Regions from separate parts of the Homo sapiens genome. Here region 1 is linked to region 2. Evidence: fine-mapped expression QTL. A gene starts in region 2. The other region holds a variant in brackets. All regions are shown on one strand. Distances are between the middles of the regions. Region 1 holds the start of GPR20 (G protein-coupled receptor 20). Region 2 holds the start of LINC01300 (long intergenic non-protein coding RNA 1300).

What was found. PIP is the estimated chance that this variant, and not a neighbour inherited with it, causes the effect. A credible set is the group of variants that fine-mapping cannot tell apart.
Region 1: its variant is the best candidate, but not a certain one, in a credible set for the expression of LINC01300 in sigmoid colon (GTEx, PIP 0.66).

Annotation. Positions count from the first base shown.
Region 1 is chr8:141,366,731-141,372,090 of GRCh38, reverse strand. GPR20 (G protein-coupled receptor 20) reads left to right here and starts at 4,805. Exons shown (of 2, transcript NM_005293.3): 1 at 4,805-4,890. RefSeq lists a silencer at 2,946-3,128 and an enhancer at 3,493-4,042. The variant A/G (reference allele first, on the strand shown) is at 2,499.
Region 2 is chr8:141,337,870-141,343,229 of GRCh38, reverse strand. LINC01300 (long intergenic non-protein coding RNA 1300) reads right to left here and starts at 2,681. Exons shown (of 4, transcript NR_024441.1): 1 at 2,558-2,681; 2 at 754-889; 3 at 15-272. RefSeq lists an enhancer at 557-1,057 and a silencer at 4,206-4,500.

The DNA of each region.
Region 1 (5,360 bases), 29 kb before region 2:
TCCTCTTCCTGCTGTCTCTGCCCTGGGGGAACCCACCACTCACCCAGCACCTCCTGGGCTGGCCCTGGGTGGGCCTGGAGACCCAGATGGTGGGAACTGCACCCCTGCCCAGCTGCCAGCTGTAACCTGGCTGGCCACAAGAAGGCCAGGGCGTGAAGGGGCACCCCTGCCCAGGTGGCAGGAAGGCTGGCATGGAGCTGAGCTGCCTCGGAGCTTCGATAGCTGAAGCCCCTCTCCGGCCTTCATCTCCACATGTATAAAAGGTGGGGCCAACTTGGCGGGTTCCAAGGTCCTCTGGTCCCAGTGTTCCCCCTGAGGCCCTGCTGCCCCATTCTGTAAGCTAAGACTCAGCTAGCCCCACACGCATTCCACACTCCACACTCAGACCTCACCCCAGGCTCCTGGACCCATGGCAAGGCCAGGCAGAGCCAGTGTGAATCCTGGGAGAGCCTGCAAGGCTGGTCACCAGACCTCCTCCACCAGCAATCCCTCCCGGATTGGGTCTTAGGAGCCTGGGGCTTTCCCTCTGCTTTCTCACCAATAAGCCCCGCGCTGCTGTCCCCCGCCATTCCCTGCGGGGACCCTCCCTGGGCTCCATGGGGCTCAAGGCTGCAGCTTCTTCCGTGTGGGCCCCTTCAGCAGTACCAGCCCACACTGAGTCTCACCACCTTGTGCCAGCTGTGGCCAGGGCCACAGCCCTGCCAGACCCCATGATGAGGCAGTGTTCTGTGGGTGCCCCTTCCCACAGTCCATGAGACTGGGTTTAACAGAAGGGTACTGGGGGGCTGCAAGCCAGGCATGGTTCCAGCCAGGGTCTGCATGCCCCATTTGCTGTGTGACTTTGGACAGGCCTTCCTCCCTTTCTGGGCCTCAGTTTCCCTGTGTGTAAGAGCAGATGTTGAGACAAGATGCCCTGGGGGGAACCCTCAGTGTTGAGCAGGCATAAGGGGGTGCCTTGGGGCACCGAGGGGGCCAGCCCAGAGGGTAGCAGTCCCAGCAGCCACCCTAGGATGACTCCCTAGAGCCCCAGAGCCGCGCGCTAACTGTGCACCAGGCACAGCACCAGGTACCCTGGACGTCCCCAGTTGTGGCTGAGTTCCAGGCATTCAGCCAAGACTGGCCTGGATGATCCCGGACTCTGGGTACTTCCCCACCCACCTCTCAAAGGCTCTGCCCTGCAGGGTCTCATAGCCTGCCCTGGTTCTTCTAGCCTCCACCCCTGGAGCCCCGACATGCTCTGCTACCGTGGGGTCCGCGTCTTCCCCTCAGATAGGAGGAGGCCGCAGACTGGGCCCAGGCTGCCCCTCACTGCTGTGGGCCTTGGGGCTGGTCCTGTCCCTGTACCCCCAGCCCAGTTTCCTTGGTTCCCACTGTGGGGCTGAGCCTCCCTGTGGAGCTGTGATGTGGCCGGCAGGACCCAGCGCTTCCTGAGAGGAGGGACGCCCCTTCCCAGCCGTGAGCACAGGCCACAGGGCCAAGGCTGAGGATCAGAGCAGACAAGGGAGGCGCCAGGCTGGGCTTGAACCCAGGGCTGCACAAGGGGCCCCCACATTCCCTGGACATGCAGGCTCACCTCTCCCTGGGGCAGAGAAAGGCTCCTGCCCACCCCAGCTCAATGGCAGGTGCCTGCCCGCTACCCAGCAAGTCCAGAGTGCAGGAGAGGGCCTGTGGGCACTGGACCCCCCAGGAAGGAGCCTGCAGGTCTCCCGATCACCCCTCATCTGGAAGCTCTGCACTCCCCCTCTGCCCCTCCTCCATAGCTCTGGCCTCTCGAGTAGGTGGGAGTCCTGCAGAGCTGGCTGGCATCACCCCACCTTCGCAGGCCCCCTTGGGAGGACCTCACCCCTGGACACATGGCAGAAAACGGCTGCCAGCCTCCCGGGGCTGTTTACATCCTCGAGTGGCACCAAGACGAGGGTCTCTCAGGAGGACAGACGAGGTCTGCGGTGTCAGGCACCAGCAGGGGTGGCAGAACCCGCCTGTCACCACCATCTGCTGTTCCCCATTATCCTGAGCCCTCTCCACCCCGGGGACTGCTCAGTGGCCCGTTGTTGGCTTCATCCCTCAGGATGGGGACCCTACAGTGCCAGCACTGCCCATGATGGGCGGGGCTTGTCAGTCTTGATTGCAGCGTTATGGGATTCCCAACTGCAGCTGCCACAGCGAGAGGGCCTTGGCGTCACAGGCCAAGGGTGGAGGACAGGAGCCATGGGTCCACCTGGCTCCCATGGAGGTTCACAAGGGGCCACTTCTGCCTCCTGCCCAGGGTGGCCTGGTAGCCCTGCTGGCGGCTCATGTGGAGATATCATTGTGGCGCTTCCCTGCACCCTGTCCCTTGGGGAAGGAGGAATGGTAGGCTGCTGATGCCTCACCGCTGGCAGGGCCTCCAAGGATGCTTCCATGGGCTTGAGAGGGCTCTCCACCAGGCCCAGTTCCCTACAGTGTCTGCCCAAGGGGCCCCTCCCACCCTGCAAAGTGTGCCAGAGCCCAGGATGAGC[A/G]GTCCTGCCCTGCGAAGGGCCAGTCAGACACACCTGAAGGGGTCCTGACCCTGGGCACAGCCACTCTCTGACCTCTGACCCCTGACCCCAGTCACAGACAGCCTGGCCTGACCTGCCAGCCTGATAAAGATGACAAGGAGGAAATTGTCCCTGTGCCCTGTCTCCTCTGAGGGTTGTGGAGTGTTGGCCCTGAGCTCGGGACCCCCATCCCTGGTGTCCCCCCAAGAGGATCCCTGGGTCCTGCTGAGAAGAGTCTCCCTGGGGGAGGAGTCAGGGAGGCTGGCGTGGGCTGTGACCCCTCCCCAGGCAGTTCCCCGCTGTTTGCTGGGGGACCGTCTCTGAGATTTCTCTGAGAACAAGCCTGAGAGTGCAAGGCTGGAGCCCCAGGCCCTCAGAGGTGGGCATGAGGCCTGGCACTGGTGCGGTGACTCAGCCACCCTCGCCTGCTCAGGAAATCTGAGCCTCCTCTGGCTCCAGCCCTGCCCAATCTGGGCTGCCTCCAGGCCACCCCCACACAAAAATGACATTGCATCCACCCCCACCTTCCACAAGCCCGGTGAAACCCTGCCTGCCAGGAGCCAGTCCTGGTCCAGAGAGGTGCAAGAGGCTGGTGGCCAGAGACTCCTGTGCCTCTCTGGGCCTCAGTTTCCCCAGCTAAAACAGACACAACGATGTTCTAAAGGAGATAATTGCAGCCTGTGGGCTCAGCCCTGCAGCCGCAGGGAGGCTGCTCCAGAGTGAAGAAACCATCCTCTCCCAGAACTTTCAATGGCTCCCTGTTGCAGCACTCTGGTACCCATAGAGGCTGCTGAGACTCAGTGTAGAAGTCCCCTGCCCACTCCCAGCTTTGCTCCCCAGGAAATATTCTGATGGCCTCCTGTCCCTCTGCCCATCTGGGCTGCCTGCCTCCTGTTATACCTCCCTCTGCCCCTTCCAGGAAGCCTTCCCAGACGGCATCCCTCCCCAGCAGGCTGGGTCAGGACCCTAGGGCCCACCTACTCTCTCCTGTTGGTCTGCATTACAACCAGCCTGAGCTCGGGAAGGCCCAGCCCCTCCCTTGGGGAGCCTTCCCTGAGTCTCCGGTGTGCAGTACAACCCACTCAGCAGGGCCTCGGCACTCAGGCGGCTGGAAGGTTAAAGTGTGAGTATCAGCAGAAGCACACGGGATGGGAACAAGAGGAGATGGTGCTCTCGGCAGAGGAGACACTAACTAAATGGCCCCAACCGCTCCCCGACAACCCCCGCTGCCACCCCAGGCTGGCCACAAGGCCTCCTGGCTCTGAAGCTGTCTGGGGAGAGTGGCCCTCCAGCAGCCCTCTGGGATCAAGCCTGTTGATGAGCTCACGCTTCCTCCAGCACTGAGGTCCGGGTCCCACACGCTCTCCCCACCTGCTGGCCTGGGTCACGTCCAGGTCTTTCCCACACACCTGACCCCACATGCCACATGCCACCGGTGCATGGGTGCAAACAGAGGCCCAGATGCCAGGTGTGCAGGCTGTCGGTCATGGGTACACACAGACACAGCCAAACCCAGGACACATGCAAAACAGAGAGCCATGCAGGAACCCAGGCTTGCGTGGGCTGAAGCTACCATGCACATGCCCCCTCCCGGGAAGGAAATTGGGCTTTCGTGTGCTCCCACCTCCTGTCCCGCACACAGCACGCACAAGTGCCAGCCACCATCTCCTGGATGGTGCAGCTGAGACTCAGCCCCTCCGTGCCTCAGTTTCCCCCTCCTGCCCCCCACACAGCACACACAAGTGCCAGCCACCGTCTCCTGGATGGTGCAGCTGAGACTCAGCCCCTCTGTGCCTCAGTTTTCCCCTCCTGCCCCGCACACAGCACGCACAAGTGCCAGCCACCATCTCCTGGATGGTGCAGCTGAGACTCAGCCCCTCCGTGCCTCAGTTTCCCCCTCCTGCCCCGCACACAGCACACACAAGTGCCAGCCACTGTCTCCTGGATGGTGCAGCTGAGGCTTAGCCCCTCCGTGCCTCAGTTTCCCACCTCCTGCCCTGCACACGGCACACACAAGTGCCAGCCACCACCTCCTGGATGGTGCAGCTGAGGCTCAGCTCCTCGGTGCCTCAGTTTCCCCCTCTGTCTCCAGTGGGTGTGGGGACTCTGGTGCCCCAGGCCCCTCTGTGCCTCGGTTTCTTCTTCTGTCTCCAGTGGGTGTGGGGACTCTGGTGCCCCAGGCACCGTCCCTCAGGCTCTGAGCCTTGACTCCTCCTGGGGGCGGGGAAGGAGCCTGCCCCGCCCCCACCCTGCCTTTGCCCAAAAGGAGCCCCAAGCGCTGGCCTGACGTCAGGCCGTAGGAAGGCGAGGTCCGGGCTGCATGCAGAGCTGAGAGCTGAGGACTCCCATCTCCAGCCTGCCCGGGTGAAGCGCGGTAAGTTCCCCTGTGGGCTGGCCCCAGCCTCCCTCTCCCCAGCTTCCCTAGATAGGAGGCTCCTGAGCTGCTCCCTGCAGGGGTTCTCACCCCCAGCCAAGCAGGAGTGGGAAGGGCAGGGCAGAGAAACTGCCTCCAGATCCGGGCTGGGGAGAGCTCAGAGCAGGTCCTGCTGGACAGGGAGCCATTTCTCAGATGAGAAAACAGAGACCTGAGGGAGAACATGGGCGTGAGTTGGGCTGGCTGCATAAGGGGGAGCTGCGCTGCTAGGTGCCCACCCAACTCTGGATTTCATTCATTCACTCATTCATCCCTCCGTTCAACACTCACCGAGCATCTGCTGGGTGCCCAGAGCTGGGTCTTGGTTTCCCCACCTGGCAAGGCAGCAGGGTGGCCCACAGGCCAAGCCAGGGACAGAGTTGGGGGACCCCAGAGGCACTTGGCAGGCTCTGGGGCCTCAGCCACCACCA
Region 2 (5,360 bases):
CAAACACATCTCACCTCCAGCCCGTTCTGAGCAATCCATCAGTGTGGCTGCCCCTGGAACGTGCGGGGGCACCAAGGCGGAGTTGCAGAGGCTGTTACTGATATGTGTCGTGGGGTGAGTCGGGGTGGGGGACGCATATCCCCACTCAGAACTCTGCATCGTAGATCCCATGCGTCTTGACACCTTCGTCTGCTAACATCTAGAAACCTTAGCATTTGAGAACCTTCAGATCCAAGGGTTCTGAGAGCTTAGAATTGTAGGATTTGTGAATTCTAGAAACAAAGGCAAGAAGATCACCCGTAGGGTGTCTCCTCTGCTCATGCAGCCTGGAGGGACCTCTCGGTGATCCCCGGCCGACCCCTCCCCAGCACTCAGCCCAAGAACCAGCCTCAACCACCTCCCTTCCCAGCTCAGCCTCACCTGCTGCCCAACCTGCAATACCTCCTCCCATCTCCCATCCTCAGACAGCCCATCCCTCCTGCAAGGTCCAGTCCGAAGTCGTCACCTCCCCCAGGAGGCCCACCCGTCCTCCTCAGCCCAGCCTGACTCTCAGGATCAGGCTCACCCTGCGGAGGCTGAAGCCACCAAGTCATAGTCCCAGTCCCAAGGGGAAGACAGGCCTGGAGCAGGGAGAGGTGTGGGCAAGAACACAGCCTCCGTCCCACAAAGAGGAGTTCAAACCCCCGCTCCAGCCCAAATGGCCCGGGCAGTGCCCTCACTCGTCTGCTTCAGCAGCCTCACCCGACTACTCACGATGGCTGCAGGTGGAAACTGCCCACGCATCTCTCAGCAGCTGAAAGGATGACTCCACAGTGGACGATTACTCAGGTGTAAAAAGGAGCAAAGCACTGGCACATGCGATAATGCGGAGGGACCTGAAGCCACCGTGCTAAGTGAAAGAAGCCAGACACGAAAGGCCACATGGTGCTCACACCTCCAGAGATGTCCAGAACAGGCAAAGCCAGAGACAGAGCACAGACGTGCTAGCCAGGGCTGGCTTCCTTGGAGGCTCCCAAGGAGAATCTGTTTCCCTGCCTTTCCAGCCCCTGGGGGCCCCCCTGGACTCCATGGCTATGGCGGCGGGTGCCAAGGCCCTGCAGCAGGGCACGACCACCAGGACCCATTGGGAATTGGCATCTGACTCCCTTCCACCACCCCGGGTGCCCCCACTTAGGAAGAGCCGACTCTCAGCAACTGTGCCCAGAGTGGCCTGGCCCATCAACCATGTGCCCCCTCAGCCTTCCTGCAGCCATTCAGAGACAGCAGTAAACACTCCTCCATCCCAGTGTGTGGGCCCAAAGCTGAGATCCCAGCCCAGGTCTCCCAGCTCACAGCCCTGCCCAGGGCCATCCTCCTGCTAGACGTCACCACATCAATGAGCATCTACCCCGTGCAAGGAAGAGGCCGGCGATGGGGTCCAGGTGAGGGGACAGCCAAGCCCACCAGGCGGTGGCCTTCCCTCACCTGCCCATTCTGGGCTAGGTCAGCTCTACCTGGAGCCTGAGCCCAGGCCCCTCCAGTGCCCTCTGCTGACTGCAGCAGACTGACCACCCTGGAGACCCTCCTGCCCCTGCCCCGAGACCCTCCATGCCACCCTGCCTCCAACCTCTGTCTTCTGCCCCCATTGCCCCTTCATGGTCCTGCAGGCCGCCCATGCTCTGTAAATCCAGCCCACCTGGGCACCCCGTGAGACCTCGGACCCGTCACATCCTGGTCCCTCCTCTTCCCCCACCCCCACATCCGACTGGCACTCCCTTTGGGCAGCTCCATCCGGTGGTGTCCTCTCTGAGTCCCAGGGCCTGCATCGGGTGGTGTCCTCTCTGAGTCCCAGGGCCTGGCACTCAGCAGGCCCTGGGGACATCAACCAGGGGCCCTTGAAGCTGTGTCCCTGGACACAGTTTCCCTGCCCCAAGCCCTGGCACATTCGGCCCAGGCTTGGCAAAAACTCCTTGTCCTCCAAGGACTCGGCTGCACCAGCCACTCAAATAAATTGATGTTCCCATCTCTGCTGACTCATGGATGAGAACATCGGGGCTCCTGCCAATGGCCACACACACCCCCAGCCCCACCAGGGAATAGCCCTGCACCCTGCAGGGACAATGTCATGAGCCTGAGAAGCCACCAGCTTCCCCTACTCCGTGAGCACCAAACTCCAGCCTGCTTGAGCTGTTGGGGGCCCCCTGCCTTGGCACTGTTCCTAATAGAGCCTGGGATCTTGTTTGAGCCCTACAAGGAAGCAAGGACCCCAGGCATCATCTTACAAACAAGGAAACTGAGGCTTGGGGAGGGGAGGAGCTTGTGGGTCCAAGTTCCCTGCCGGCTGTAACACTGTAGGAGTCAGAACCTGGCCAATGCCTGGAGGGGGCTTCCTTGGCCAGGGCTGAGCCTCAGGCTGCCCCCACCCCATCTCTCCCCCACTCCCATTGCATATGGAAACCAGAAAATCAATCCTAAGACCCCCAGCCAAACGAACGGACCCTCGTCTTGGCTAAGGACATTCCAAAGTGAACCTGAAAAGCGAGTTCAGGCCACGGTGGGAAGCGGGAGACGGACATACCTTGTTATCCCCCCTCCCTTTTGGAATGACTGGCAGAACAGTCTTTCAGTCTGATAATAAACATCTCCCATCCATTCTCTCTGCAGTCTGCTGCCTGGAGGCTTCATCTGCATGATGAAACCTCGGTCTGCACAACCCATTATCTTAACCCAGACATTCCTATCTACCGACAATAACTCTTTCAACCAACGGCCAATCAGAAAATCTTCGAATCCACCTATGACCTGGAAGCATCCCCGCTTCCGGTGGTTCCGCCTTTCTAGGCGTAACCAATGTACAGCTTATGTGTATTGATTGATGCCTTGTGTCCCCCTAAAATGTATGAAACCTAGCTGTGGCCCGACCACCTTGAACACATGGTCTGAGGGTCTCCTGGGGCTGTCATGGGCCCCCGGCCATTCATCTTTGGCTCAGAATAAATGTCTCAAACACTTTACGGAGTTTGACTTTTTGTTGATATATACGTCCAGGGAGGCCTCACTGCAGACTTACTGGGCCGCAGGGGCCTCAAGGACCAATATGGCCCCTCCTCTTGGAACAGACGGCCCCAAGCCAAGAGGACTTGGGGACCCTGTGGCCCAAACGGGTCATTTCACAGAATGGGAGACGGAGGCCCACACGGGGAATGGAGGAGAGCGAGGTGGAGCAAGGCCCTTCCCAGCCCTGGGCGGCCCCTTGACCCTTTTGTTCCCCCTCGCTGCCAGGCCTGTGACTGGGTGGGCCTGGGTCTGCAGCCCTACGGGGACTGGAGGGACAGCTGAGTGAGCAGAAGGTGCCTTGTGGCCAAGGCACAGAGGCGTCAGGGCCCAGCTGTGTTCAGCAGGAAGAAGGTCTGTGAGTGGAATATGGGGGTGCAGCGGGGTGGGGGGCGGCCAGCCTGCAGCTCAGATGCTGCGCTGGGGCTCCGGCCGTGACCACGCTCAGCCTCTGTGTCCTCCCCGGTAAAGTGGGAGGAATCGCCTTCCACACAGGACTCGGGGCTGGGTGAGGGCTGGGCGGCCACCACCACCTGCCCTGGGGCAGCAGGAGCTGCAAAGCCAGGCTCAAGGCCTGGGGGAAGGAACCCGGCGCTGGGTGCCCAGAGTCCAGATGAGATGGGTTTGGGGGGAAGGAACCCGGTGCTGGGCGCCCAGGGCCCACATGAGTTGGGTGTCGGAGGAAGGCAACCCCACCCAGGCCACCCCAGCCAGGGCTCAGGGACTTTGCCCACATGTTACCCTCTGGATCTTTCGGAACATTCTGCTGAATAAAAACTGGATTTAAAAAAGAGGCCAGGCACGGTGGCTCATGCTTGTAATCCTAGCACTTTGGGAGGCCAAGGTGGGCAGATCACTTGAGGTCAGGAGTTCAAGACCAGCCTGACCAACATGGTGAAAACATGTCTTTACTAAAAATACAAAAATTAGCCAGGTGTGGTGGCACATGCGTGTAATTCCAGCTACTTGGGAGGCTGAGGCAGGAGAATCACTTGAAATCTGGAGGCAGAGGTTGCAGTGAGCTGAGATTGCGCCACTGCACTCCAGCTTGGGCAACAGAGTGAGACTCCATCTCAAAAAATAATGAAAAATAAAAAAGGTATATTCTATGAAACTCTATTTGGGGTGTGATCTCGTTTTTAACAAGTATTTAAGAAGTAGGCTGGTGCAAGGTGTTTCTAAATGCTTCACAGTGTTATCTCTAGCAAACATTTCATCTGACGGTCTTTTGAATGAGGAGCTCCTGAACGTTCGGCAGAGGAGGTGGAACAGAAGAGAGAGGGCAGGCAGGGGCGTCTCCCTTCTTATCAAGGTATGACTAAGGGCACAACCTTATTTCCAAACAGAACAGTGGACAAACCGGGAAAGGGAGAGTCTGGAGAGATGAAGCGATACTATTAGTGCGGCTGACATGTCAATCACGGGGCTGGCACCGTTCACAGCTCTGAGGCTGCTGGATCTTTCCTGCCTCTCACCTCTGCTCTGCTCAGGCAAGCCTAGCCAGGCAGGGACTGGAGTTGGGGGCTGTTTTCCAGTTCACAGAGGAAGTCACAAGGCCCTAGGACACTCAGGGCCTTGGGAAAGCCAGCCAAGGACCAGAACAGATGTTTCGGCCTGACAGCACCTACTCTTGGGTTAAGCATCACCCTCGGTTTGAAAAATAGAAGTGAGGCCAGGAGTGGCTCACACCTGTAACCCCAGCACTTTGGGAAGCCAAGGCGGGCAGATCACTTGAGGTCAGGAGTTCAAGACCAGCCTGGCCAACATAGTGAAACCCTGTCTCTACTAAAAATACAAAAATTAGCCGGGCGTGGTGGCCGGCACCTGTAATCCCAGCTATTTGGGAGGCTGAGGCTGGAGAATTGCTTGAACCCAGGAGGCAGAGGTTGCAGTGGGCTGAGATTGCACCACTGCACTCCAGCCTGGGCGACAGAGCAAGACCCTGTCTCGATAAATAAATAAATAAAATTTTAAAAATAATAAAAAAAAAACAGGCTAGGCACGGTGGCTCATGCCTGTAATTCTAGCACTTTGGGAGGCCACGGTGGGCGGATCACTCAAGGTCAGGAGTTCAAAACCAGCCTGGCCAACATGGTGAAACCCTGTCTCTACTAAAAATACAAAAAATTAGCTGGGCGTGGAGGCGCACACCTGTAGTCCCAGCTACTCAGGAGGCTGAGGCAGGAGAATCTCTTGAACCTGGGAGGTGGAGGTTGCAGTGAGCTGAGATCGTGCCACTGCACTCCAGCCTGGGTGACACAGCGAGATCCCATCTTAAATAATAATAACAATAATAAAACAGAAGTGGGTAGGGCACGGTGGTTGAC